7 linked regions of the Homo sapiens genome follow. The protein of the gene in region 3 purifies or fractionates together with the protein of the main gene of each other region. This does not show direct contact. Each region holds a gene or a part of one and is shown on either strand. Other genes may lie near its edges.

Region 1 (4,317 bases), on a different chromosome or scaffold from region 3:
GGCCTTCTCGCTGCCATCCCCAGACCGCTTCTCACCCCGGGACCGCGACCGCTTCTTCTTCTTCTTGCTGCCGCCACCGTCCCGGTGTTTCCCGCGGTGCCGCTCGCGCCTCGAGGACGACGATGAGGAAGTGGCCGGGGGCGGGGAGGCGGAGCGCCGCCGCCGTCGCCGCTTCTCCCGGGACCGCGACCTGCGGCTGCCCCCGCGGCGGCGGTCGGTGCTGCGCGAGCGGCGGCGGGTGGAGCGGGAGCGGGAGCGGGAGCGGGAGCGGCGGCGGGCGGACGACGAGGCGTGGGAGCCGGGCTTGCGGTCCCGCGAGCGGTGCTTCTTGGAGTCCCAGGGCGAGGCCGGGGCGGGCGGCGCTGGCTGGGTGCCCGACGAGGACGAGGCGGCCTCCTTGGCCTCGCCGCTGCGCTTGCGTTCCCGCCTGGACTTCTTGCGCGTGGGCGGACCAGCAGCGGCGGCCGGGGCGGGCGCGGGCGCCGGGGAGGGCGAGCGCTGGCGGTAGCGCTCCCGCCGTTGGGTCAGGATCTTGCGGCGCAGGTCCAGGCCGCCCCAGCGCGAGTCGGCGGCGGGCGGCGCGGGAGCCGGCTCCCCTAGGTCCACCTGCAGGGCGCCCTCGCCGTCCGACTCCGCATGCAGGGACAAGAAGTCGTCCCCCTCGGGGGCCCGCGGAGCGGGAGGCTGAGGAAGGGGCTGGGCCGTGGGGGTGGCCGAGGCGGCCGGTGTAGGCCGGGCGGCCCGGCCGCCGGGGCGGAAGAGGGACAGCGCCAGCCTGGGCTCCTCCTCCGGCTGGACGATCTCCCCTTCCTCGATCTCCGAGTCGCCGGGCGGCAGCAGGGGCGGCGGGAGGGCGGCTCCACCAGCGGTCACCACCTCCACCGAGACCTTGCCTTCCCGACAAGCCTCTGCCTCGGTCCCCACCACGAAGACCCGCCGGCGCATGGCTCCATCAGCCCGGGTGGAGTCCACCTGGGGCGGCGTTCCAGGGGCGGGAGTCGGCTGTGTGGGCTGCGCGTCCGGGCGGGGGCTCTCGTCACCTGGGAAGTCCTGGCTCAGGCTGTTGTCATCGTAGATGCCCGCCAGGGTCTCCGAGATGCGGCTGATGCTCTGGGACAGGCCTTCCTCCTCCTCCTCGTCTTCCTCTTCCTCTTCTTCTTCCTCTTCCTCCTCCTCTTCCTCCTCAGGTGAGGGGGTCCCCGCTGATGAGCTGGGGTTGGAGCCGGTGGGCTCAAAAGGGTCGTACTTTTGCTCCGGAGCAGGCGGTGGAGAGTAGGCCTCGTCGGTGGGGTGGAAGGGGTCATAGATATCGAATCGGGGGGCAGGTGGGGCTGGGGGTGCAGGGGGCGGTGGGGGTGGGGGAGGGGAAGGGGAGGAAGATGAGGGAGAAGGGGAAGGGGAGGAGGATGCAGAGGAGGGGGCAGGGGGTGGGGCAGGGCCCCCGTCTCCCGTGCCCAAGGTGAGGTGACGGGCACAGGTGGGCCTAGAGGAGTTCGACTGTGGAGAAACTGCAAAGGAACAGGGAGAGAGAGGCGGTCAGGGCCTTTGCCTCCCTCCTGGTGCCTGCTTGCTGGCCCAGCCGTGGACACTCCCTGGGCCACCAGGTCCTGCCCAGGAAGCCCCAAGTGCTTCACAGGAGCCAGCCGTAGGATGCTCCCAACAACTGCACACCATGGTTCTTAACCCAAAGGTCACAGGAGGAAACTGAGGCAGAGGGCTGCAGTATCCTCCCCAAGGGCACACAGAGAGAAGGCAGCAGTCAGGGTGTAAACTCAGTCAGTGCGGCCCCGAACCTGCACTCCCATATCCTGAGACAGCACTGGCCTGACCCTGGGCAATGTACCCTGGCCTTGAAACTAGGAACTATCTTGACCAGTGCCGGCGACCCATCCCAGGAGGAGGTGGAGGCTGCAGTGAGCTATGACCACAACACCACACTCCATCCTGGGGGGAGAAGAAACAGGAAAACAGGCTGCAGGGGGAGAGCTGGGATTCAAACCTAAGTCCCCCTCCAAGACAAAAACAAGCTCTGGCCTGCTGCGCCAGCTGCCTCTCGTGGGAGTTTCTCCCGTTTGGTAGAGGGTGAGATTCCAGTGCAGAGCCAGGAAATGGCAGAGCTGGGGAGCCCAGGAAGGCTGGTCTTCACCCCAAGCTCTTCACTCTGTGCTGAGTCCCCACCCAAGGAATTACATCTGCTCAGGACTCAAAGACACCACTGACCAGTGACAGTGGCAATGACAAAGGTTTGCCTCTTCCTCCAAACCAGGCATGGTGCTTCGTATGTCACCTCATTCGCCCCCAAAGAGCCCGCTGCACTGTGCTAAGTACTACAGTCATGATGCCACAGTCACACGATGGAGATGGCTGACAGAGGCCACACCACAGGCAAGGATGCCAGCAGAGTGGTGTGAGGACAGTGCCAGGGAAGGAGAGGGGTCAAGAGGGCAGCACCAGAGCCACCCCTTGATCCAGGGGCTGGCCCTCACCAGCCACATGACCACAGGCAAGTGGATCAATGTGTCTTACTTCAGTTTCCTCATCTATAAAATGGGGGTATGTTCATTCATCCAACACCCTTTATGGCCGGGTGGGGTGGCTCATGCCTGTAATCCCAGAACTTTGGGAGGCCGAGGTGGATGGATCACCTGAGGTTGGGAGTTCGAGACCAGCCTGACCAACATGGAGAAAGCCCATCTCTACTAAAAATACCAAATTAGCCGGGTGTGGTGGCACATGCCTGTAATCCCAACTACTCGGGAGGCTGAGGCAGAAGAATCACTCGAAACCAGGAGGCAGAGGTTGCAGTGAGCCGAGATCGTACCACTGCACTCCAACCTGGGCAACAAGACCAAAACTTCATCTCAAAAACAAACAAAAAAAATATCAATGAGTGGAGTGTACGGTCCCTCAGCTGCCAAGGGCTTAGGGGAAGATGAAACAGGGGTGATGATGACAGCATTTACTTCCCAGGATAAGCGGAGGAATAGATGAGTGCGCAGAAAGAGCCAGGCTGCACCTGCTGCTGGGTGAGGACAGTCTGAGCCTCAGCTTTTCCTAGCCTCATTGCTATTCCCAGCACCTTAAGCACAAAATACTCTCCACAGACTAGAGCGCTCTGCAAACACGCGAGATCCACAGCTTTATATAAATTTCTGTATGGGACAGGATTATGGGTGAACTTTCTTTTCTTTTTAAAGCTACCTGGAATAAGCAAAGAAAACATAACCTCAGAGTCCCCCTGAAAACAACTACTATTAGCTTCCGGATACACCCTTATCACTCTTAAGGCCCAGGGGTCAAATCCAGCATACCACCTGTTTTCCTAAATCAAGTTTTAGAGGAACGTTGCCTGACCCATTTGTTTACTTATCCTCTGCAGCTTCTGATTTTTTTTTTTTTTTTTTTTGAGAGGGAGTCTCACTCTGTTACCCAGGCTGGAGTGCAGTGGCACGATCTCAGCTCACTGCAACCTCCATCTCCTGGTTCAAGCAATTCTCCTGCCTCAGCCTCCCGAGTAGCTGGGACTAGAGGCGTGTGCCACCATGCCCAGCTAATTTTTGTATTTTTAATGGAGACAGGGTTTCACCATGTTGGCCAGGATGGTCTCAATCTCTTGACCTCATGATCCGCTCACATTGGCCTCCCAAAGTGCTGGGATTACAGGCGTGAGCCACCGTGCCCAGCCCTACAGCTTCTGATTTTAAAGAAATTGAAACACTTTTGTGGGCCCCTAAGAATGTCATAAGTCCTAGGCACCATATCACTGTACTTAATGGATAAATCATTTCCAGCTGTTAAAAAAAAAGGGGGGGGGGTGTGGCAGGCATGGTGGCTCATGCCTGTGATCTCAGCAGTTTGAGAGGCCAAGGCAGGAGGATTGCTTGAGCTCTGGAGTTTAAGACCAGCCTGCGCAACATATCAAGACCTCATCTCTATTAAAAATTTTAAAAAAATAAAAAATAAAGGCTGGGCGTGGTGGCTCACGCCCATAATCCCAGCAGTTTGGGAGGTTGAGGCAGGCGGATCACTTCAGGTCAGGAGTTTGAGACCAGCCTGGCCAACACAGTGAAACCCTACCTCTACTAAAAATACAAAAATTAGCTCAATGTGGTGGCATGCGCACCTATAATCCCTGCTACTCAGGAGGCTGAGGCAGGAGAGAATCACTTGAACCCGGGAGACGGAGGTTGCAGAGAGACTAGACCCCACTACTGCACTCCGGCCTAGGTGACACAGTAAGACTCCATCTCAAAAAAAGAAAAAAGAAAAAAAAAAACTAGCCAGGCATGGTGGCATGCACCTGTAGTCCCAGCTACT
Region 2 (3,180 bases), on a different chromosome or scaffold from region 3:
TAGATAAGTCACTTTGAAAATTCAAACCAAAGTTCCTTCACCTTATGGAAATAGGAAATTATGGACTTCAAAATTGGACACTTCCTGTTTACAAAAAGAAATTCAGAGCTAAAATCATGGTAAAAAAAAATAGAAACACTTGAGAACTATGGTCTTTATGGGTGCAATTTGAAATCCTTTTCATCATCTTACCAGACTAAACTAAGAGCACATACCAAACCTATCTTATGGTTGAAAGTTGGGGTTTATTTTTTATATGAGAATATTATCACTATTACATAACATACTCAGGACAAAGAACTTTGCTCAGGGAACATACCATGTAATATTTTTGTTGTTTCTTTACAGACTAGTCTACAGTCCTGCTTACTCAAAACAAACCAAATAACTTATACCTTTATATAAGTATTATGTACTGATGATAGTAACTACCTCTGAGTTTGACACAGATCAAAATTTTTGAATATCAGATATCAGTTATCCTATTTTTATTTCATGTGAAAACTCCTCTAAAGCAGATTCCCTCAACTCTGTGCATATGTGAATATCACTGATGTGAACACATTGTTCATTTACATAGGTAAAATATTACTCTGTTTACAGCAAAAGGCTACCTCATAGTTGATACATAGCACACCTGTATGTATGCTGTTCCAGCCTTACAGGTGGCTGATAATTCTCTGGTACAGAACCTTTTTATCTGTATTATAAATAGCAATTCACAACTGCATGTTTCTGACAAACACTTGTGAATAATGAAGCATCTCGTTTTAGTTAGCAAAGTCTCCAAACATTTCCTTAAAATAATCATGTATTTAGTTTAAAGAATTATGGGCACTGTTCAACTTAAGCAAAACAGAACACGGAAGCAGTCTTAGAAGCACCACTTTGCCCAGAGGTGGAGGTTGGAAGGGGTAGCAGGGAGAGGGGTTGGTGTATGCAGGTATTCATGCTAGGCAAAGAGTTTAAAAGACGCCAATGTCCTTCATTTACTGTCTGTGCTGCCCTGAAGCCAAGCGTATTGCAGCATTATAGCCCCAGGCACATAACTAACTAGCACTGGCTTGCCAAGGAATGAACATGCAATGCCATTACTAGCTATTGAGGGAAAAGGGTCTGTGTGAAGCATCACTTTGCAGGGATTACTAATGGTGGGGCAGCAGGTCTGTGAATTAAGTTATCTCTTGACCTCACCCTCATGTCAACACAAATGTAATTCCTAAACAAGATGCATTGCCAGTCTCTTAGCCCTGTAAGCTGATCTTTTGCTACATGGCAGACTATAATGAAAACATTTTTATACTTGGGTTTCTAGTCTTCACTAGAAGGCCTTGGATGTATTTTTGCAGTTGAAAGATTTAGAAAGATTTTTACCTGCTTATAACTTGGAAGTTTAGAGTGCAATGTAAGAAAAAAGATCAAGAAATGTCATGTTATTAGCATCAGTCCACCTCCAATATTGCCGATACTTTTTTTATTCTGGCTCAGTTTTATTTTGCACCAGTGCGGCCCCAAGTTACTGCTGGTTGTATTTAGTTTGTGAATAGGAGCCCATAAGTGTTAATAGACTTTGTAACATTCACTATAAGATGAATTATACAGGACATGGGAAATCTCATTAAGTCTTAAAGTTAATTTAAATTAATTTATCTGTTTTCTCTAAGAAATGTTTATCATAAAATATATATGTGTATTTCCCCTTTGGTTATAAAATTTGGGAAAGTATGTACAAGTGCAGCTGCACTGACTTTAATTTTCTAGATGTCTTAATGAGATTTATTTGTTTTAGAGAAGAACATCTTGTTAAAAGCATCAAACTCTGTCTTACATAGCTGTCAACAGCCTCTTTAAGATGTGGTGGTTGTATGATCTGTGTCTTAATTGTTCAGTTAGAGTGAGAAGTTGACCTATGATTCATTTTTAAATTTTATATTTGGAACAAAGCTGCAAGTTATGGTAAAGTACTGTACTGTGAGAAGTATTATGATATTTAATGCATCTGTGGCTTAACACTTGTGAGAGTTACCAGCTTGAAAATGATGGTGTTGACTACCTCTTGAATCACATCTATCAACCACTGGCACCTACCACCAAGCTGGCTTCAATTAGTATGTGTTGCTTTTTGGTATTAACAACTAACCGTACTAGAGACCAAAGTGAACCCTGATTTTTATATGTCTTTAATAATGGTGTTTTATCTAGTGTTTTTAAATTATCCTGTGTAGTATTTAGATTACCTCATTGTCCATTTTGACTCATGTTGTTTACAAGTGAAAATAAAAACACTTGAACTGTATGTTTTTAAAAGACAAAAAAGGGGTAGATGTTTGGAATGCGTTTCACTCGCATGCAGTCATCTGGAGGGACTGAAGCACTGTTTGCCTTTCTGTACACTCTGGGTTTTATATTCTCATTTCATGCCTAATGTCTTATTCTGTCAATTATGGATATGTTGAGGTTTAAAAAAATTACTTGATTAAAAATAAAACATATAACGTTGGCATTTATGATGGGTTTTGGAGATTTTTTATGATGTGTGTTCTTACTAAGTTAAGTGAAAGGATAAAAGGCCATTTAGGCAGTGTTTTACATCAGTTGGAGCATAAGTTAAGTGGTATTAACATATCCTCAGTGGTGAGTATTAACATGGAACTTACTCCAACAATACAGATGCTGAATAAATGTAGTCTAAGTGAAGGAAGAAGGAAAGGTGGGAGCTGCCATCACTCAGAATTGTCCAGCAGGGATTGTGCAAGCTTGTGAATAAAGACACATACTTCATGTAGTCAGAAGAGTGGTCTGAAGCAAAATATTCAAAGCCTATTGAAGAAATCATTTTAGAATTTTTCTACAAGTTTTTTCTAATAAAGAATTTGAAAAGGGCAAATTTTATCAGTACCAAATATCTAAAATACGAATGTAGATTTATCAAACCATGAATGCAGTATTGATGTACTGTAACAAACGATTTGGTAAAACTATTGAGTTCTTTAAATTGGCCAGTTCCACAATCAAACTTATTTTCCTCTCTTCACCTGGATGATTTATTTTTTTGATGATCTGTTATGACTTTTATTTTATTTTAAATTCTGGTAAAATCACATAACATAAAATTTACTATCTTAACCATTTTTTTTTAAAGATGAGGTCTCATTCTGTTGCCCAGGCTGGAGTGCAGTG
Region 3 (4,317 bases):
GGAGGAAGAGAGAAAGGAAAGGAAAAAAGCAAGTAATTCTCCTTAATTAGAGCTAACTGGAAGATATAACAGAAAAAGAATATTATAGCTTAGGACTAAAATAAAATCATACAAAAGGGAAGTTAGAATCTTCAATTTGCTACTTGAGAAACTCTTCACTCTGTAAGAATCGGACTTTTTAAAATACATCACACATGGCCGGGCGCAGTGGCTCATGCCTATAACCCCAGCACTTTGGGAGGCCAAGGGGGGGCGGATCAAAAGGTCAGGAGATCAAGACCATCCTGGCTAACATGGTGAAACCCCGTCTCTACTAAAAATACAAAAAAATTATCCGGGCGTAGTGGCGGGCGCCTGTAGTCCCAGCTACTCAAGAGGCTGAGGCAGGAGAATGGCGTGAACCCGGGAGGCGGAGCTTGCAGTGAGCCAAGATCCGGCCACTGCACTCCAGCCTGGGCGACAGAGAGAGACTCTGTCTCAAAGAAAAAGAAAATACATCACACTTGAAGAGCCATGAATGCAGACCTGGATCTGAGGCTGTAAATCATGGGCAGAGCAATGAGGACTAATCATTTCCAGCAAGTCATTTTACAGACAGAGCCCTGATATTCCAGTAATTTTGCTCAAGATAAAAAATAAAATTGGTCATATATAAAAAATAAAGTTGATTATTAATGCGTTCCTATTATTACTTGTTGGGGATTAATAGGCACAATCTCTTCAGCTGCAGAACAAAGGACGCACATGTTTTAGCACAAGTAAAAGGCTGCGATGGAGAGCCCCAGTATCACAGACTCAGAGCAGGACCAGCTGTCTGGCACACACCGCAACCTGAACATACAACATAAGTCAAGGCCATAAGCTGACCCAGAACCCCAAGGATCCCCGAGAGGGTCAACCATGATTAAAGAAACGGAAGAAGCAACTGCTGCAGGAAGAACTGAAAGGACTAGCATGGCAAGCCACGTGCAGCGATGATTCTTCAACACCCAGAGCCTACGGACTCAAGTCTCTCTGAGGTTCTCTCATGATATGCTTTTGGGAAAACGAAGTATTCAGCTATGGGTACACTTTTATAGAATGTGCTACTTCAAAAAGCCAGAAACTTTTCTTACCATCAGGACTTACTCAAAAGAGACAGAAGTAACTTTACCAAAGGTTCTTACACTGCGGTGGTTCCAGACTCAGGGGGAATTGGGGTCCTCTGAAAATCTCTCCCTGTCCCCACCTGCCCTTCACACGGCCTTAGGAGCTATTTTCTAAATGGAGTATGGTTTCATTTCTCCGCTTAGAAACCTCAGACACCTTCCCACAAGCACTAGGCCAAAGCCCACATGCCTCAGGACAGCTAAGCACCTGCGCAGTTAGGCCTGGAAACTGCCAGCTCGTTCCCCAACTCCCTGCCACCCGGTGTACGCTTCAGCTCAGACACCCATGAATCTACGACCATCTTCTGTTCATGAAACTTCTCTTTGATTCCTTCTGAAAAACTCATACTTAACCTGAAAAGCTCAACCTAGATGACAACACAATCCCTGATAAGACCTGTCAGTGTTCTGGCATTCTGTACACGTGTCTCCTTGGCATGTTTGACTTTTCCAGCCTGAGTTGTTTCATGGACCCGTATCTTTACTTTCCGTGTATACAGGCACTTGTTTTCTCAAGTTCTCTCTGCTCTGCACCTACCCTCCTTTTCTGCCTGTCAGCGGTGACATCCCTGCACATCAGGGTGCCTGGCTCCCAGCCATCCGACCCTGAGGACCACTCAGTCTTTCCCTTAGTCCACAGCGAAACCCTGGACATGAACTCTTCTCAAAGTTACTAACTCAATTTCTGCTTTCTGACCATAACCTTCTATGTATGCTACCCTTCAATCTCTCCAATTCCAACTAACCTGCATTGCTACCTCATGCAAACCTCTAGGCCATGAACCCATCTTCACTTCTCAACTAGACTTCAGCTTCAAGGACATGCTCATCCGTGTATTGCTGACTCTCGTGCATCCAATGCCACCAAACTCATGCTAATTCCCACCCAGAATGCACTTGATCTTTCAAGCATCTATAGCAGCACACAAAGAGACAATGTCTAGATCCAGTACAGACTTATGAATTCCAACCATAGGCCTTAACAAAGGCCAAAATCCATAAAAATTAATCCTGTCGACCAACTCTAATGCTGGTGAGAAGTGAGTAAAATAAGGCTGGTAAAACAGCAGGCCTTCTCCTTGGCCTTGCTGTCAGAAGCCTATTAAACACCTCTTCCTCCTCAGTTAATCCCCCTTGCATTGTACTCTGTGTAGGGGACGCCAGGTACACTACAGCACTTATCGCCCTCTGCGTCTTGCTAAGAGCTGCATGACAAGAGGGGAGACGGGCTGTGCAAGGATTGTGCTCACAGCAATCCAAAGTTCTTTATGCATAAGCTCTGTTCTCAGCTACATTTAAAATCCCCCACATAACTTGAAGGTCTGTTTTAGTATGTCAGACTGCACACATATCTGGCTTCCTATTAGATGAGGATTTTAATCCTTCAAATTATCTAGCATAGTGTCTACAACATAAATTCCTAGTAAAGAAATGACGTACCAAGGGTGGGTCAAGATAGCTGTGCGTTGCTGACCACGTCTGGGGAGTGATCAGGCTGTACAGGGGGAACTGCTGCTGGGGGCTGTACATGGGAGGGAAGTAGAACGACGTCGCGTAGCGCTGCTGGGCATACAGGCTCACGTCCAGGGGTCTAAATCCATTCTTTGGCAAAAATGTGTTTATAGCTATTGCCTTTGCTTTTATCCGTGCCTGTTTGAAAATATGTAAGTTTCTATTAGAATACTTAAGAACATCAATTTGCAAATAAACAAAGTATAACCAATGGTCTTGCTTACCTTAATTGGTTTTCCTTGAAAAGTTTTGACTTCTTCTCGAAGGTATTTGTAAGCCTAAGGGCAAAATTAAGTACAAAATTCCATTCGATTAACCTTATGAATAAGAGGCACCAATAGTTCACTCAATAGCTCAAATAGGGAAATATATAATTAAATTATGGTGAACAGAACCTAGAATAATGATTCTTGACACTCCCTGGGTCACAGATCCCTTAAAATAACCTCATAAGAGCTATGGAACGTGTACCCCAAATTCTCACAAACAAGATTTGTACACAATTTTGTAAGTATTAACAGATGCCATAGAAGTCTCCCAAAGACCACTGGCTAAGAACCTTGACCTGGTGGAAAATGATGAATACTGAGTTCCTAGTATTCATCCCAATTTCAGATTAGGAGAATGCAGTTCAGGAAATACCAGACAGGAAGGAAAAGGATTAGGATCATAACATCCAAAAGTCATTCTTGATATATCTCCTTGTTCTTCTCCATGTTAATTCTACATTAAACCCCTATAAAACTGTGAAGGCCCTGCACCTGATTCAATATCATCCGACCACATTCGCCACACGGGCTGGCAGAGCTCACACTCCACTCCACAAAAATGGTTACTCTATCTTCCGTTCCCCTTTTCCCCCTCCATCCAATTAAAACCCATCTTTCAGGTTTCTGTGTTTTCTTTTCTGAACCCCACATACTGTTTATACCATTTAACACTTTATAATATGTGCGTTAGTTTCCTCACAAATAAGATGCTTCCCTTAAAAGCAGGAAAACTACTAACTCCTCACGCCTCCTTACAGAGCTTACTTCTCAATACCATTAAAAGCATCTTCCAAAATACAATGAAGTCTGCTGGGAGATGAAGATTAGGTTCAAATTTCCCCCCAAACACTTTGCAAATAGTAAAACTTCTCTGCCCAGATAGAAGAACAAAACTGATTTTCCTAGGTTGCTTAGCTTGTTGTCCTTAGAAAGTAAAATCACATGCTTTTTATATTGCTATAAAAATTGTCCATACAAATACACTCAAATATTTAAGTTTCTACAACTTGATTTCCTCTGCAGATTATATTCAAACTTACCATCACAAGTAATCTCAATGCCCAAGTTTAGTCCCAACATGCACTAATAGTAAAAACTGGTAAACTATGCAATTCATAGGGTGATGGTGGAAAGAACTTACCTGTTGTGCATCAGCTTCTGTTTCAAATGTAATAAACCAATTATCATTATATGCAAATTCACAGTTTATAAATTTTGGTAAATTATCTCCTTTAAATAGTGCTTCTACTTCCTACAGGAAATAGAGATGTTAGAAATTAATTCTCAACAATGTCAGTTTTTGTCCTCACCAAAAATTTTTTTAACAAATGCATTCTCTTAAGGAACTATCCTTAAACAAACGTACCATGATGCCTAGTAAATCTCTC
Region 4 (4,317 bases), on a different chromosome or scaffold from region 3:
CAGTGATGAGACGCTGGGGTCTCCACACAGGAACCCAACTGACTTGGAATTTTTTTTTTTTTTTTGAGGTGGAGTCTCGCTGTCGCCCAGGCTGGAGTGCAGTGGAGCGATCTCGGATCACTGCAAGCTCCGCCTCGCGGGTTCATGCCATTCTCCTGCCTCAGCCTCCCGAGTAACTGGGACTACAGGCGTCCACCACCACGCCTGGCTAATTTTTTGTATTTTTAGTAGAGACAGGTTTCACCATATTAGCCAGGATTGTCTTGATCTCCTGACCTTGTGATCCGCCCGCCTCGGCCTCCCAAAGTGCTTGGATTACAGGAGTGAGCCACCACGCCTGGCCGGAATTTTTTTGTTTTGTTTTTTTGAGACAGAGTCTTGCTCTGTTGCCCAGGCTGGAGTGCAGTGGCGCAATCTCAGCTCACTGCAAACTCTGCCTCCCGGGTTCATGCCATTCTCCTGCATCAGCCTCCTCAGTAGCTGGGACTACAGGCAACCGCCACCATGCCTGGCTAATTTTTTTTTTTTTTTTTGAGACGGAGTCTTGCTCTGTTGCCCAGGCTGGAGTGCAGTGGCACGATCACAGCTCACTGCAAGCTCCGCCTCCTGGGTTCATGCCGCTCTCCTGCCTCAGCCTCCCAAGTAGCTGGGACTACAGGTGCCCGCCACCGCGTCCGGCTAATTTTTTTGTATTTTTAGTAGAGATGGGGTTTCACCGTGTTAGCCAGGATGGTCTCGATCTCCTGACCTCGTGATCCGCCCACCTCGGCCTCCCAAAGTGCTGGGATTACAGGCGTGAGCCACCGCGCCCGGACTGGAATTTCTTAGAGACCAACAACTAGAACCAGATGTGACCATGTCAATGGCTCGGCTGAACACACACCTCCCCTGTGGATGCTGCCCTCCCCTCAGAACATATGTGGGTCCCAAAGTCCCCACTCCCTTATTTGGGCCAGATGCTCGGGGAGGAGGGATGCTTTGCCAGTGTCAAATGCAGACAGCTGCTCAAACCCCAATGCCAGGCGGGCGGCCTGGGTTGCTTCTCATCATAAGGCTGGCAGCTCCAGGACTTGATGCCCATCCCAGCCATGCAGCGACTGCCCATGGCTGTTCAGACTAGCTGCGGTTTGAAGGTGGAGCACGGGATAGGCTAGTCCCAAGGCTACTCGCCTCTCCTCTTCCCTCTCTGGCTTTGGCTCTAGAGTAACTTAACTGCCCACTCTTGTAAGCCTGGGTCTTGGGCTCTGATAGAAAAGATGCTGGAGAGCCAGCCCAAGGAAGGCTGCTACCTGGGCCAGCTCAGTGACGGTGTCAGCGTCCACTGTTGACATGTCCACGTAGCACTTCCCAGGGCGGATCCCTTGCAGCACACCACTGGGGCCCAGCACCAGCTGTGGGGACACAAGGGAGAAGCAATAGCCCAGGCTCCCGGGCAGATGCTCAGGAGCCCTACAGACCTCAGATCAGAATCCTGCTGCTGTTTTGGCTCATTTCCTGATTTCTATCAGCTGAAAAGGGAAGAACAATGAAATAAGCAAGGGATAGAAAAGTACTTCCCGCATGCTCCCATTTATCTTTAAAAAGAATCTATGTGAGTGTGTGCATTTCTTTTTATTTAAAAAAAAAAAAAAACAAACCCCATTTAAAAGAATAAACCTCAGCATTTACTTTGGGGACTTCTTTGGATTTACTTGGATTAGGCTAGTCACCAGTTTAATAAGATGACTACCACACTTGAACTTCTAAAATATACAAATACAGTGACAGCTAAACATAGAAGCTTGGCACCTGGACCAAAGGCACATTCAGTTCCAAAGCTTCTAGTTCAACAAGAACACATGAAGCCTGTTCAAGACACATTTCAGCACAGACTTCAAGGGCCCTAGTAGTGTTCATTCTTTGATCTGAATTAAAGGAAGTCTGTATTCAATTAATGCAAACACCCTTCACAATGGGAGATGGCCCCTGATGGGAAATTCAGCCCCCCACATGTGGACACTCACTTGGTGTGCAGGGGAGGAGGGGAAGAGGCCAGCCAGCAATCCTGGCTGTGACCCGGAGTTGCTGAGGGGAGGGAGGGGGTCCTTACGTCCTTGGCCGCCTTGGGATCCGACACGCAGGCGAAAGTGATGTCGCAGGTTGAGACGACTTCAGCGGGGGTTCTTCCCAGACGGGCCCCCTCCTGGATGAACAAATCACACTGCAAAAGTCACAGATCCTAACGTGAGCTGCAGGCAGTGCACAACAAACATGCCAGCCAGGCCAGAGAATTGCTGACCAGGCCTCCTGGCGGCCTACCAAGGCAGGAGGCTGAGGCCGGGAGCCTGGGTCATGGAGATAGGAGCCCAACTTTTGGGGAAGTGCACGGGGCCTTTTACTGGCCATCTTCAGTTTTTGCATGACGAGTGCCTAGGATGATGAACTGCTTCACAAGTGTCTGCTGAAGGTATGCTGTTTCAAGAATGGGGTATGAACAGTAGCACCTCTCCCCAGCCCCCGCTGTGCTGTCCTGGCTGTGGCCCTGAGCTATCAACACTCTGCTGGGAATGTGGGGATGTCGCTGGAAGCCTTCCACCTGGTGGCCATTCGTTTTTGGGTTGTTTCTCAACACTGTTGTCAGGTTAATAAGACTTCTGGAAGTGCCTAAAAACACTACCATTTTGGCTTTTTTTTTTTGAGACAAGGTTTTGCTCTGTCACCCAGGCTGGAGCACAGTGGTGCAATCATGGCTCACTGCAGCCTCAACCTCCTGGACTCAAGTGATCCTCCTGCCTCAGCCTCCTGAATAGCTGGGACTATAGGTGCATGCCCCATGTGTGATTTTTTTTTTTTTCTGTAGAGACAGGGTTTCACCATGTTGCCCAGGCTGGATGGGCCTACTATTTTCTATCAGACTTTTAATGTTGTTTATGATTCACATTTATCTATATTGTTGTCTTTCATAATTCTGGCATAATTATGGTTTATAGTGGTTGACTATGGAAAACTTCACTGAGAGATATACTGTGATTTACCTAATGGCTGACCTGTAGTTTGACACTTAGCCCACTTTCAATTGTAAAATCACATCACCAAACATCTTTACGTACAAAACTTCTCTATGTTTTAAATTCAGGTCTCCACAAATAGAATAAAACAGGTTCTAAAAGTTTTAAGGCTCTCAACAAATGTAGACAGATGACTTCCCAATGAGACTATGTCACTTCATAAAGATCACCAGCAAGCTCTCCTATTATGCCAGTACCAAGTATGTAATTTAAAAACTACAAATAAGTGCCCATAAATACATGTAAAATTCTTCCTACCTGATCATTTAACCAGTCAAAAAAGGCAACTGTTTCATTTTTTTTTTTTGAGACAGAGTCTCGCTGTCGCCCAGGATGGAGTGCAGTGGCACGATCTCAGCTCACTGCAAGCTCTGCCTCCCAGGTTCACGCCATTCTCCTGCCTCAGCCTCCCGAGTAGCTGGGACTACAGGCGCCCGCCACTGTGCCCGGCTAATTTTTCGTATTTTTAGTAGAGACGGGGTTTCACCGAGGTCTCGATCTCCTGACCTCGTTATCCCCCAGTCTCTGCCTTCCAAAGTGCTGGGATTATAGGCATGAGCCACCGCACCCGGCCTTGTTTGATATATTTTAATTACTCCTGATTACCGAATATTTTTTATGCCTTTGTTTCCTCTTTTGTGAGCCATTTTTTTGTCCTTTTTCTTTTCTGAGACAGGGTCTTGCTGCTGCCTAGGTGGGAATGCAGTGGTATGATCACAGCTCACTGCAGCCTCTACCTCCTGGGCCCAAGAGATCTTCTGGCCTCAGCCTCCCAAGTAGCTGGGACTATAGTAGGCAGGTGCCACCTCACTCAGCTAATATTTTATTTTTTGTAGAGATGGAGTCTCATGTTGTCCAGGCTGGTCTCAAATTCCTGGACTCAAGCAATCCTCTTCCCTCAGCCTCCCAAGGTGCTAGGATTATAGGTGTGAGCCTATTCTTAGATCTAAAATTATTAATTAGCACCCTACTAATTTTTTTGTCTTAATTATCAAACTATGTTTAATAAAAGCAACATATTACCCTTCTTACGTATTTGCTACAAGTACTTCTAGTTGGTATTCCTTTGAATTTTATTTTTTTGTTGTTGGGGAGTATTATCAAAAAAAATCAACTGATCTTCTTGTGTGATTTTTATTAGTTCTAGATTTACAAAGATCTATGTTAGTATTTATTTTCTTCTGGTTTTCTTTTAAAAAATTACTTGTGGGCCAGGCACAGTGGCTCACACCCGTAATCCCAGTATTTTGGGAGGCCAAGGCGGGTGGAT
Region 5 (4,317 bases), on a different chromosome or scaffold from region 3:
GGAAGGACTACTGCAATTTATTAGCGGTATCTGTAAACATGGGGAATAAATCTGAAAACAAAACAAATAGGAACACATTTTAGCACCAAATACACTGTCTTCTCATAATTCCTTAATTGCCCTCACCTTTCCACCCTGCTGTCCTGCCTTAGTGTTTCTTACAACATCTCCCAGCTCTTGTACCCATCCCTGTGGGTCCTGGCTATGGAAATATTGCAGTTACCTGAAACCTCACTAGCCATACGAGAAGCCACAGGCACCAAGACTGGCGGCTCCACTGCCAAAGCCAGCACTGGTGCTCGGTCCACCACCAAAGCCAGCACCAGTGTTTGGTCCACCGCCGAAGCCAGCTCCTGTGCTCGGTCCACCGCTGAAGCCACTGGTGCTTGGTCCACTGCAGAAGCCAACACCAGTGCTTGGTCCACCGCTGAAGCCAACAATAGAACTGGGTCCACTACTGAAGCCCGTGCTGGTGCTGGGTTCGCCAGTAAAGCCAGTGCTGGTGTTGGAACCACTGCCAAAGCCAATGATGGTACTCAGTCCTCTGTCGAAGCTGGCATTAGGCCTACTGCCAAAGCCATCGCTGGTGCTGAGGCCACCACTAAAGCCAGCACTGGTGCCAAGTGTGCTGCCGAAACTAGCATTGGTGCCCAGTCCACCACCAAAGCCATCACTAGTGACCAGTCCACCACCAAAGCCAGCACTGGTGCCCAGTCCGCCACTGAAGCCAGCACTGGTGCCCAGTCCACCACCAAAACCAGTGCTGGTGCCTGGTCCTCCACCGAAGCCAGCGCTGGTACCTAGCCCACCATCAAAGCCAGAACTTGTGCTTAGGCCACCACTGAAGCCAGCACTGGTGCCTAGGCCACCACCAAAGCCAGCACTGGTGTTCAGTCCACCACCAAATCCAGCATTGGTGCTTAACCCATTGCCAAAGCTGAAACCGGTACTGGTGCTGGGTCCATCACAAAAACTAGGGCTGGTAGCACCACTAAAGCAGGCACTGGTGCTAGGAGGGCCACCAAAGCATAGGTTAGTATTAGATGCACTGCCAAAGCAGAGGCTGGTGCTGGGAGCTCCACCAAAACAGAGGCTGGTGCCATGAGCACCACCAAAGCTGACACTGGTGCTGGGAGCAGCACCAAAGCCAATGCTGTTGCTGGGAGTACCACCGAAGTCAGCAGCGGTACTAAGTGCCCCACCGAAGCCAGCACTGGTGCTAAATGCACCGCCAAAGCCAGGGTTGGTGATTGGTGCACCACTGAAGCAAGCACTGGTGCTGACAGCACCACTGAAGCTGGCACTGGTGCTGACGGCACAGCCAAAGCTGGCATTGGTGTTGAGTGCACCACCAAAGCCAGCACTGGTGCTGGGAGAGCCACCAAAACAGACGCTGGTGCTTAGTGTACCACCAAAGTCAGTGTTGGTGCTGACAGCACCACCATAACCAGCATTGGTGTTGAGTGCACTGCCAAAGCTGACACTGGTGCCAGGAGAGCCACCAAAGCAGACACTGGTGCTTAGTGTACCGCCAAAGTCAGCACTGGTGCTCATAGCACCACCAAAACCAGTACTGGTGTTGAGCACACTGCCAAAGCTGGCACTGGTGTTGAGAGCACCACCAAAGCCAGCACCAGTGCTGGGAGAGCCATCAAAGCAGATGCTGGTACTTAGTGTACCACCAAAATTGGCACTGGTGCTGGAAGAGCCACCAAAGGAGACACTGGTGCTAAGTGTGCCTCCAAAGCCAGTGCTGGTGCAGGGAGAGCCACCGAAGCAGATACTGGTACTGAGTGTACCACCAAAGCTACCACTGGAGCTGGGAGAGCCACCAAAACAGACACTGGTGCTGAGTATGCCTCCAAAGCCAGTGCTGGTGCTAAGCGCACTACTGAAGACTGTGCTCGTTGTGGGTGCACTGCCAAAGCTGGTGCTAGTGCTGAGTACACCACTAAAGCCAGCCGTGGTGCTGAGTGTGCCTCCAAAGCCAGAGCTGGCTCCACCACTGAAAGTGGCACTGGTGCTGAGTGGGCCACTAAAACTAGAGCTGACTCCACCACTAAAGCTGGCACTGGTACAAGGCATGCCACCAAAGCTAATGCTGGCTTCACTGCTGAAACTAGTGCTGGTGCTGTGTGCACAACCAAAGCTAATGCTGGCTGCGCTGCTGAAGCTGGAGCTAGTGCTCAGTGTACCACCAAAGCTAATGCTGGCTGTATTGCTGAAGCTGGCACTGGTGCTGGGTGCAACACCAAAGGTAATGCCAGGTCCACCACTGAAGCCACCACTGGAGCTGGGTGCACCATTGAAGCTAATACTAGCACCATCGCTGAAGCCAGCCCTGGTACTAGCTCCTCTGCTGAAGTTGACGTTGGTGCTGGCATCTGCATTTTCTTGGGCTCTGGCCTCAATTTCAAATGAAAATCTGCTCCAGGCCTGAGCATCATCGCCTAACTCTTCCCTTGTTAGGCAGTCGATATCCATGTCATCCCAATTCCAGGGCCCAGCCACAGCTTCCTCTCCAATCCCCATTTGGGCTCTTGCCTCAGCCCTGGCTTCAGCCTCAGCCACAGCCACAGCTGCAGCTTGGACTTCCATCTCCACTGCCTCGCGGTACTGCACAGCCCAGTCCTTGGGGTCTTTCTTCTGCACCTGAAATGGGGATGATAATCATAATAAGAAAACAACCCTAGTAATCATGTATTAACCTACGGGCTTTGTATTAAACTAGTAGCAATACTTTTTTAAACTTCTCAGTTATTGGGGCTCTATCATGGGTCAGTTCTGAACTCCAGTTTCAGCTCTGCTGACTTACGTGCTATATGACCTTGGACAAGTTACTTAACCTCACTTAGCCTAAGTGTCTTTATAATTACAGGAAATGATAGAGCGTAAATATGTTATGAACTGAAGGGTTGTGCCCGCCCCCAAATTCGTATGTTGAATCCCTAACACCCAGTGTGATTGTACTTGGAGATAGGGCCTTTATGGAGATAATTAAGGTTAAATGAGGCCATAAGGGTGGGGTCCTGATCAACAGGATTAGTGTCCTTATAAGAAGAGACACCAGAAAGCTTGCTCTCTTCTCTCTCACACACAAAGCCATGTGAGGACACAGCAAGAAGGCAGCCATCTGCAAGCCAGGAAGAGAGCCTTCAACAGGAACTGACCCTCGTGGACCCTGACCTAGGATTCTCGCCCTCAAGAACTATGAGAAAATAAATTTGTTTTTTAATCCACCCAGTCTATGGTATTTTGTTATGGCAGCCCATGCTGATTAATACAAAGTATGAAGAATGAATGAGATGATGTAAACTATATATCTAGCAGCACCCTGGGACATAAAGGAGGCTCCACATGTTTATATATGAGCTGCAGGCTGCTCTGTACCTGCCCATCCCTGTGCATTGCCTGCCCCAGCCAAGGGTATCCCATTGCCTTAATATGCCAAGCTCGGGCAGCTCTCCTCTTACCCTGCATGCAAACTTGAGGACTTTCATCTTGCTAGTCTCGTGGTAGGAGCGCAAGCCCCAGAAGAACTCATATTCAGGTGGTCTGCTGTTAGGGACCCTCTTGTACTCCAGGTACCTTGGAAAAAGGAAATGAAACTTGTTTCTAACCAAGCAACCCTGCTGTCTAAGCACTAGACACCAGGTGGCAACCTCCTCCAAACAAATACAAACAGCCCCTGGAGAGGGATTTCTAAGACCCTCCAGCCCCAGACTCACTACCAAACACAGTTTATGGTCTTGGCCTCCAATACTGAGCCATTTCCCACTGGCCCTGTGCAAAGCAGTCCCTTGGGCTTCTCCAGGGGAGACATGTATAGGGCATGATGTCACAGGAAGGCCAAAGTATCATGCCACCTGTGAGGAGTAAGCCCAGATTCCTGTTGGGTGTGTTGTAAACAGAGGAGCCATTCTTAAGGCCCTCTGCTCTGAGCGCACCCCACTGCAAGGGCCTTGTGTTGAGTCTGGCCCAGTCCTGGAAAGGTCTGCCCATGGGAATTTTAGACAGTATCAGTTCTAGGACACAGGATGCCCATCCCTCTAAAGCTAGTATAAGAAAGGCACTGACTAAGCACTTTCTGAACCAGATCAGTATACCCAGAACACTTCAGGGCCAGACAAAGCCCCAAACACCACTTACTTCTGCTTCACAAACTCGTCTGTGATGAGCTTCCTCACTTCCCCAAAGAGTGAATGCCTCACCCTGACAATGGGAAAAATAACCCATGAACACAGATCAGAACTGCCCAGATGAGGGCAGAGGCATTTCCCAACATGGAAGAGACCTCTCTAGCACATGGGGCAGTCT
Region 6 (4,317 bases), on a different chromosome or scaffold from region 3:
CTATAAACTCCAAACACCAGATAAAGAACAGAATTGGGGAAAATGGCCTCAAACTGTTCAGGCTACTCTACAAATCACTTATTAAGCAGTATTAAATCTAGTTTCCTAAAACCAATCCTATGCAAAAGAGTCACAAACCACAGCCCCAAATTTTCCAAAATCATTTTCCACTAACTACCTATCTTTGGACAGCCAAGACTGTGGTGGAATCTAAAAATCAACGCATCACTGAAAGGATTATCCTTCATATTGCATACATCTCTCACCTCCACAAAGAACTGCTTCTCAAAACTGACAATTCTGAATTGACGGGATGCTAGTTTTAGGGAAGCTTTAACATAGAAAAGGCAAAGAACTTGAGGCAAAGAAAAAAAGCAAAGTAAAGGGAAAGAGGGTTACAAGGAAAGAGAAAAAACTGTCTTTTAAAACACATATTGCCTAAGAAAAATAAAAGGGCACATTAGCAGATAAACATATAGGAAGAAATCTCTACTGCCAGGAGATGTTTACAAAAGAAGGCAGTGTTGGACATATTGAGACTGGTCAGACTGAACAAGAATCAGTGCTGTCATGATAAAAAAACATGAGGCAAAATCCAGAATAGCTTTTGAAATATCCAACAACCTGTAACCCCTCTGTGACTTCATTTCCTTGTCAAAGAAGTGGGAATTTATTCTACAAGCTGCAAGCTGTTTCTCTACGTAAGCTAAGTTTTCTCAGGGAATACTTAAAGGGATGAAGGAAAATAAACCTTTGGAAATCTGTATTTAAAAATCTTAAATAATTCAAGATATGGGTTTTATTATAATTAGCAAATCTATTTGAATTTGAAAAGGGAAGTTTCAGATTTCCTAATTAAACATAACTGTTCTGGTTTGTAGAATATTAGCTGTGGGTCACTCTTTTCACAGCAAAAATTCTTCTGGGGTTAACCCTTGCCCAGCAGTTATGGAAACAATGAGCTACAAGATTAAAGTGGCCAAAGACACTTAAATCACTACTGAAAAGTTTGGATGGGTGTAGAAACTACAAGAGACCCGAATGGGAGATTCGGACTAAAGCTCATTGGGATAGCATTTGAAATACAAAGTGTTCATTGACTGAAATCAGCAAGATTTAGAAAGGACAACAAACACTCCTCACTTAATTGCACATTTATTTCCATGTTCAGGTGGCAAGAATGAGCTCCTAAGCCAACATTCAAGTGAACAGCTGCAGTAGGCTGTGTGCGCTGAAAATTACAGCATCTCTCTGCTATAGGACCATCTGCTCAGAATAAAATGATACTAATGTGCTATATTTTACAAATAATGCATATTCCATTGATAGGCTCAACACAACTGTTCACAGAATGCAAACTCTTTCAACAGTTACTGGGCAAATAATTTTCAGCCAGATTTACAATTTCAACTTTTTTTTTGGAGCATAAAGAATTGTAAATAACTTCAAAATTTAGTAACCAAAAAAATACATAGTAAACAGAATGTATAGAATTACGGTAACTTAGTATTCAGACCATACCAAAACTTTTTTTGTTTTTTTAAAAAAGCTTGTCACTCTTTTGAGTCTGCGCTAAATCCTAATTTAGATTGTAAAAAAATTACATACGAGAGCATGGTTCTGATGCTACATACACCACTACAGTTAAAATTGCAATGTGCTTTAAGTCCTAATGATGGCCATACCACAATAGGTTAAATGTAAGAATAATTAGTATGCCAAATGAAAGATTCAAGTGTTTGGTATGGCCTCAGCACTCCTCCAACATGCTAAAAAAAAGTAGCCTACAGAATTTAAGAAAAATCCCACAGACCCCGGTCCAAGGCTCTGCTGCCCACGAACCACTTCTAAGCAGAGAAGCCACATCACACAGTCTGACTGCCATGTTAGTTTGGAGTTGCCGTCTGCAATATGGACACAAAAAGTACCGTATGTTAGATGAGCAAGATAATGCAACAAATCAGTTTGTACAAAATTTACAGTGATTGTATTGATATTCCCAGCACGTCCATGCAGTGTGGCTTAATTGAAATTGAGGCAATTCCAATCTAATCTTTCCAAATTCATTTCAACATGTAGTTTTCTTGCACAAATATAAGCATTTTTAATTAAGAGCCTGATTTTAAAACAGTATTAACTAGTTATCTTGGCATCTATTCTGAAGAACTAATGTAAACCACACCTCAAAAATTTAAAAAATAAAGTAAAATAAAGCAAAATACTGCAGGCTGTCTTATCTCTTAAGGATGTGGGAGAAGGGAGGAAATGTGAATGAAATTTTATAGTGGGAAAAAGTCATCATGCAATTCCTAAGTGATTGGTTTGCATAAAAGCACTCTTTCCCCAAAATATCAGAAAGACATTAAGAGAAGCTATATTTGCCCACACTGTTACATTATACTATAAATGATCCTTAATCCTGGGACTTAAAATTAAAAGTGAATCGAAACCCTGTGAGGTTATTTTGCCACTACAGTCAAACGGTTTCTAACAGTTTCAATGAGAATTGCTCACATATACTAAGAGGCAGTAAACCAGCATCTTTCAATTGAAATAATTGGACCGATAAATAGGATTGTTTGGAGTAATGCTCGCATAGGATGTCAGCTTTGTCCCTGAACGAAATCAAGTGAACATTTTTTAATATGTAAATTGTAAACCCAGCACGATTTGAAATTAGTGCTGCTATGAGGCCTCCAATATAGTTAATGGGCCATTTACCACTTATTGAAACTTGCCCAAATACCAAACAGAGCCATGATATTGGCACAAAAGCCAAAGTTTACTTTTTTTGCCATATATGCAGATGCTTCAAATGGTCAATATAATCAGAAAACTTAGTTTCTAAAAATAGACAGTGAATAACAGAAGAGGTCCAAAAATGTCTTTTACTTATTGATAATTATAAAAATTTTATCCTGAGAGGCAATCCTGGCTGTGATTTACTCTTGATATTAGCAATGCCGCCAGTAACGATGGATTCCACTTTCTGGCATCTATCAAAAAGGATTAACATACTTTTTTACAGGAAGCCATGAAAATATTTTACTCTTCTTCCGTTCTCCCACTGTAACAAGAGATTTTGGTCTGACCCTATGTTATTTTTCAAAAAACTACTTATAGTTTAACTGAACCTGTGAAAAAGTGCTTTACACCCATGAAAGATTTTTCATAAGAACCCAACTGTAGTTAAGACTACATGAGCAGGACCACACCCAGCAGGGTAAAGCAGGCATAAATGTATGTCCTGAATACCTTCAGGAGTTCAATCTAAACATTGCTCACTACATAAAACAGATTTTAATTTAACTGCCTCAGTCCCTTCTATTTCATAGGAGGTGGACACTAATGAGCTAATCTATTGACACCCCTCTTTCTGAAAGCCCCAGGGAGGTGAACAATCACTTTATTGCACCAACTAGATAGGAAGGCTGTGTATGGAAAATGATTCTACTGCACTTTTACATTTCAAGCACCCCAGACAGTCTTCTCCGCTTGAGGCAGACACATACCTTTATGGGAAGTTATAAATAAGTTGCTCACATGGCCCTTACCTTTATGCTGGCCAACAATTCAGTTACTAAAAATGTAAAGCTACTTCCCCTTCACTTAAGGACAGGCAATTCTGCTCTACTCAATCTACCACAGACAACTGGGCTGTGTACTATTTATAGATTCCACTGGCTCTGAAACTCTTCGGAAAGAAAAAAAAGGCCATATTCCAGTGAAACAGAGCCATTAATTTTAAGGCTTAAAAAAATAATGTTTCAATATATATTCTCCTCTTAATTTAGACATCACTTGTGCCAATTCAGACTGCTTTTCCTCCTGTTATTATCCAAGTAATAATTTACGAAAAGGCACTTTAGCATAGATGAATCTAGAATATTCTAAACTTTCACTGGGCTCCAAGGTAAAATGGCTGTTACTATGGTGAAAGCGTAGGTTTTATTGGGAAATAGAAGATTGTCTCTACTTTTATACACACAGGTACTTCCAAAAAGCCATAAAGACTTCTAAACTTTTTATTTAAATAATCCTTTATGAATTTTAACATCTACTGTTTTCACAATAGTGGAATTTAGAAAATAAATGCTTTATATCTCATATCTGGGAAGAGTTAAGAATTTGAGAAGTCAAACTGATCCAATAGTTTCCTGGTCACATGAGAGAAAAGCAGTCTATATTTTCTAATCTTACAATTAAAAAATTCTGCAAACTAAGGTAATCAGCTTCTTCACTATTTTCAAACCTCTTGCAGACAGCCACTAAACCAGGTAGTTAATCAAAAGCATCTTAAATAGGCCAGACTCGGCG
Region 7 (4,317 bases), on a different chromosome or scaffold from region 3:
AAATGAGTCTATAAGTTGCAGAAATTGGCAATTATATTAATCACAGAACAGTAAAGACCCTTGTTCATAGAGTTCTTGATGGGGTTTTGCACTTATCTGGGTAATAAAGACATGAATTTCTATAATCTATAACAATGCTTCAATAATACTCATACCTAGAAGCTGCAGCCCATATAAGTGGACAGATTGCTAGCTCCCTGTGATTCCTGTGGTGATAATTTGCCCAAGAAACTGGATTTGAAAGGTGTTGCAATGTTGGTGTTAACTAATATTAAATGCCATTTTTCTATATAAGGAGGAAATATGCATCTTTTCTATTATTGCAAACACCTTGTATAAATTGTATTAATCTTTTACAAAGTTCTCTACAAAGAACAGTTACAAAAGTTTAATCTATCCAAAATGTGTATGAGTAATGTGTAATGAGTTACTGTGTTAAAAATAACGTGTTTTCTAGATTACCAGACTAGAAGCTCCCTGAGTGCCCGGAGTACATCTGTCTTGTTCACTGGGTTCTTTGTATACAGTAATTGTGTTTCAGTACCTTGAGTATTTACCAGGTTGGACTTCATTGACTGACTGGTTAAATGACATGTGCAGTATGATAACGAAAGCTAAGAGTTTCTCAGTTTAAGTTATACAACAGTTCTCCCCTGACCCCCAACCTCTACCAGCCTTATTTTCCTGGTAAATACGTTCTAAGATCCACAGTGGATACCTGAAACAATGGATATTACTATATCCTATCTATACTATGTTTTTTTCTATATGTATATACCTATGATGAAGTTTAATTTATAAGTCAGGGACTGTAAGAGATCAACCACAACAATAATAAAGTAGAACAGTCATTACAGTATGCCATCATCACTACTCTTGTGCTTTGGGGCTATTATTAAGTAAAATAAGAGTTACTTTGAACACTGACACTGCCATATGTGGACAGTTGATCTACTACCCGAGACAGTTACTAAATGACTAATGGCAGGTAACATATGCAATGCAAATATTTGTTGACCAAAGGGATGATTCATTTTCCAGGCAGGACAGAGTGGGACAGTGCGTAATTTCATCACACTACTTAGCGCACAATTTAAAACTTATGAATTATTTCTGGAATTCTCCATTTTTATATCTTTGGACAGTGATTGACTCAGTTGACTGGGGGTAACAAACCCTCAAAAGCAAAACCTTGGATAAGTGAGGGACTACTGTATATATACACACAGTTGTTTTCAGACGGCTTCTGTCGCCTAGGCTGGAGTGCAGTGGAGCAGTCACGGCTCACTGCATCCCCAACCTCCCAAGGGCTCCCTAGTAGCTGGGACTACAGGTGTGTGCCACCATGCCCAGCTAATTTTTTATTTTTAGTAGAGACGAGGTCTTCCTATGTTGCCCAGGATTGTCTTGAACTCCCGGGCTTAAGCAGTCTGCCTGCCTTAGCCTCCCAAAGTGCTGGAATTACAGGTGTGAGCCACCGTGCCCAGCCGTTATACAGACGGTTACATGCAGGTGTGTGTGTATATATATATATATATATATATGTACACACACAGTCATGTGCACACACATGCACACAGTCACGTGCACACAAACACAGTCGTGTCATTTAACAATGAAGATGGGCATTGTTAGGCGGTTTTGTTGTGTTATCATAGTGTGTTTACACAAACTTAGGTGGCATAACCTACTACATATCTAGGCTGTATGGTATAGTCTATTGTCCCTAGGCAACAGATCTGTTGGGCGTGCTACTGTAGGCAGTAGTAACACAATGGGAAATATTTGTGTATCTGAACATCAAAATGATGACTGTGCCACAACATTTGTATATACTATGTGTATATACTATGGCCCTCACTATAGTAATTTCTTAGGATAAAATTGCCTGTCTTGGTTCACTTTAGTTTGGGCTCTGTAAGGCATAGAGTACATATTGATACTCCAATATATTTATTTTACCTATAGTATAAGTAAGGTAGAAAATTTAAAATGATATCTTTGCACTTAAATTGTATGTTTTTATAAGAGCGGTTTTGGATGGGAAATCCAAGTTTTTAAACTTCATTTGGAGGAATGACGATTTTCAATGACAAAAACTGAGAAACTGGTCTAAATGTACAACGTACATTACAAGACAATAGAAGGGGGAGGTTCTAGTAATCTTGCTCCATTGCCAAGTCCCACTAAAATTATATTAAATGAATTAAAATATAATTTATTTTGGTACCTTGTGTTAGAAAACAAAATGTGTAGTATATTTAGTATTTAACTTTCCTTAAATACTAAATCTTAGTCTGATGCTGGAACCTCACATGTTAATAAATAGCACTGTCTTCTGACCCAGAAGCTTCTGCAGTAAAAAATGACTGTCCCAGATAAAGGTTAATTTTCTACCCTGATATCCCTAGAGTTAAAGTTTGTGACCTTCCTGGCCAAGAATGTAAAGATTATGGTAAATTTTAAGTTCCCATGTTTACCTAAAACAAAAATCCCCCAGCCAAGCAACAAACAGCTAGCTTTGTTATTTCTAACATCTTGTCAGTTTTTGAACAGGCCTTAAAAATAATGATTTTTTTTGTTGTTGGCGGGGAGACAGGGTCTTACTCTGTTGCCCAGGCTGAAGTGCAGTAGTGCGATCAGGGCTCACTGCAGCCGCGACCTCCCAGACTCTGGTGATTCTCCCACTTCAGCTTCCTAAGTAGCTGAGACTACAGGTGCGGTGCACACCACTAATTTTTGTGTTTTTTGTAGAGATGGGGTTTCATCATGTTGCCCAAGCAGATTTCAAGCTCCTGAGCTCAAGCTATATGCCTGCTTTGGCCTCCCAAAATGCTGGGATTACAAGTGTGAACCACCATGCCCGACCTGTTACTCTTTTTATATCCTTGTTTACTTCCTGTATCCTGGGAATCTGTACCTTTACCTCAAAACTCATTTTGCTATTAGTTTGTGTATAATATTAATACAAAACATTCACACGTGATTATACTTTCACGGAGGAATCTAGCAGCCAACTGTGGAATCTATCAGCCAGCTGTTTCATTTTTAATTGAGGCAGCACTGAAGAGTCATGCAATTCCAAATAAAAATCTGGGTTTCAGAGTCCTCTTGAAAATGTGGAAGATCTGACAACACAGTGCTTGCAACTGTCAAGGAAGTTAATCTTCTGGAGTTGAGTAGGATTGTCCCCTTTAGCTTTCCTCCTCTTTCCCAAAGTATTATATACGGTATACTAAAACTAGTTTGATGTTCCTGTGCCTTAGTGTATTAAACTGAGCCTTGGGTTTTTTCAAGTTTAAGATCAGTGTTATGCAGGGGTTGCAGATGTGTGTGCATGCCAGAATCTGGCAGATAAAGATAAAGTACTTGCTTAATACGTTAGGTATCATGAGTTTGTTTTTTTTTTTTTTTAAGAGCCAGCATGCTCTTTGTTCAGGTAGTAATACTGATTCACCAGATACAAACTCATTCACCAGATACAAACCCAGATTGTCTCATGCAAAACTTTGACATATGTTACCTTCTCTGTGTCTTAACAGAAGACTAGACTCTTCCAGCTGGTTGTTTTCAGGTGAGAATCTGGGCCCCTAATAATCAAATAGTATTTTTTTAAGTGGGTTTTCATATTAAATCCTTAGAATTTTTAAAAACAGCATTCAAGAGCTGAGTTTATCCTCTAGACTGCTAGTGTAAAACTTTTAGATAGATTTGAATTTTAGCTCTAAATGTAAATACTGTTTAATGTAGGATTGTTTCATTAAGCTTATTTCTTGAACTGGCACATTATAAAAAAATCCATCTTTTTGTGACATCTTAATTTTGGAACAAAATTTTATAGATTTTAACCTGAGGTCAGGAGTTCAAGACCAGCATGGCCAACATGGCAAAACCACTTCTCTACTAAAAATATAAAAATTTAGCTCGGCGTGGTGGCAGGTGCCTGTAATCCCAGCTACTTGGGAGGCTGAGGCAGGGAGAATTGCTTGAACCTCAGAGGCGGAGGTTGCAGTGAGTTGAGATCATGTCACTGCACTCCAGCCTCGGCAACAGTGAGACTGTCTCAAAAAAAAAAAAAATTTTTTTTTTTTTTTTTTTAAAGATTTTAAGTGATTTTTTAAGGCCGGGCACGGTGGCTCATGCCTATAATCCCAAGACTTTGGGAGGCCAAGGCAGGTGGATCACCTGAGGTCAGGAGTTCGAGAACAGCCTGGACAACATGGTGAAACCCTGTCTCTACTAAAAATAACAAAAATTAGCTGGGCATGGTGTGGCGGGCCTCTGTAATCCTAGCTACTCGGGAGGCTGAGGCAGGAG

The links.
Region 1: the proteins of LARP4B (region 3) and SCAF1 purify together in Homo sapiens (affinity purification with mass spectrometry; one large-scale study listed by BioGRID and IntAct). This does not show direct contact.
Region 2: the proteins of LARP4B (region 3) and LIN28B purify together in Homo sapiens (co-immunoprecipitation; one large-scale study listed by IntAct). This does not show direct contact.
Region 4: the proteins of LARP4B (region 3) and GLYR1 purify together in Homo sapiens (affinity purification with mass spectrometry; one large-scale study listed by BioGRID and IntAct). This does not show direct contact.
Region 5: the proteins of LARP4B (region 3) and TRO purify together in Homo sapiens (affinity purification with mass spectrometry; one large-scale study listed by BioGRID and IntAct). This does not show direct contact.
Region 6: the proteins of LARP4B (region 3) and ELAVL2 purify together in Homo sapiens (affinity purification with mass spectrometry; one large-scale study listed by BioGRID and IntAct). This does not show direct contact.
Region 7: the proteins of LARP4B (region 3) and YTHDC1 purify together in Homo sapiens (affinity purification with mass spectrometry; one large-scale study listed by BioGRID and IntAct). This does not show direct contact.

Annotation. Positions count from the first base shown.
Region 1 is NC_000019.10:49,648,059-49,652,375, reverse strand, and holds part of SCAF1 (splicing factor, arginine/serine-rich 19), read right to left. Parts: intron 1,509-4,317; coding exon 1-1,508.
Region 2 is NC_000006.12:105,080,826-105,084,005, forward strand, and holds the end of LIN28B (protein lin-28 homolog B), read left to right. Parts: 3' UTR 1-2,507; downstream 2,508-3,180. UniProt on the Homo sapiens protein: Suppressor of microRNA (miRNA) biogenesis, including that of let-7 and possibly of miR107, miR-143 and miR-200c.
Region 3 is NC_000010.11:826,797-831,113, forward strand, and holds part of LARP4B (la-related protein 4B), read right to left. Parts: intron 4,182-4,317; coding exon 4,071-4,181; intron 2,939-4,070; coding exon 2,885-2,938; intron 2,799-2,884; coding exon 2,589-2,798; intron 1-2,588. UniProt on the Homo sapiens protein: Stimulates mRNA translation.
Region 4 is NC_000016.10:4,812,448-4,816,764, forward strand, and holds part of GLYR1 (cytokine-like nuclear factor N-PAC), read right to left. Parts: intron 2,201-4,317; coding exon 2,090-2,200; intron 1,509-2,089; exon of another isoform or gene 1,392-1,508; coding exon 1,290-1,391; intron 1-1,289. UniProt on the Homo sapiens protein: Cytokine-like nuclear factor with chromatin gene reader activity involved in chromatin modification and regulation of gene expression. Acts as a nucleosome-destabilizing factor that is recruited to genes during transcriptional activation.
Region 5 is NC_000023.11:54,926,938-54,931,254, reverse strand, and holds part of TRO (trophinin), read right to left. Parts: intron 4,213-4,317; coding exon 4,150-4,212; intron 3,951-4,149; exon of another isoform or gene 3,820-3,950; intron 3,589-3,819; coding exon 3,474-3,588; intron 2,653-3,473; coding exon 235-2,652; 3' UTR 224-234; intron 52-223; coding exon of another isoform or gene 1-51. UniProt on the Homo sapiens protein: Could be involved with bystin and tastin in a cell adhesion molecule complex that mediates an initial attachment of the blastocyst to uterine epithelial cells at the time of the embryo implantation. Directly responsible for homophilic cell adhesion.
Region 6 is NC_000009.12:23,763,196-23,767,512, forward strand, and holds part of ELAVL2 (ELAV-like protein 2), read right to left. Parts: intron 1,905-4,317; coding exon of another isoform or gene 1,814-1,904; intron 1-1,813.
Region 7 is NC_000004.12:68,343,306-68,347,622, reverse strand, and holds part of YTHDC1 (YTH domain-containing protein 1), read left to right. Parts: intron 1-4,317. UniProt on the Homo sapiens protein: Regulator of alternative splicing that specifically recognizes and binds N6-methyladenosine (m6A)-containing RNAs.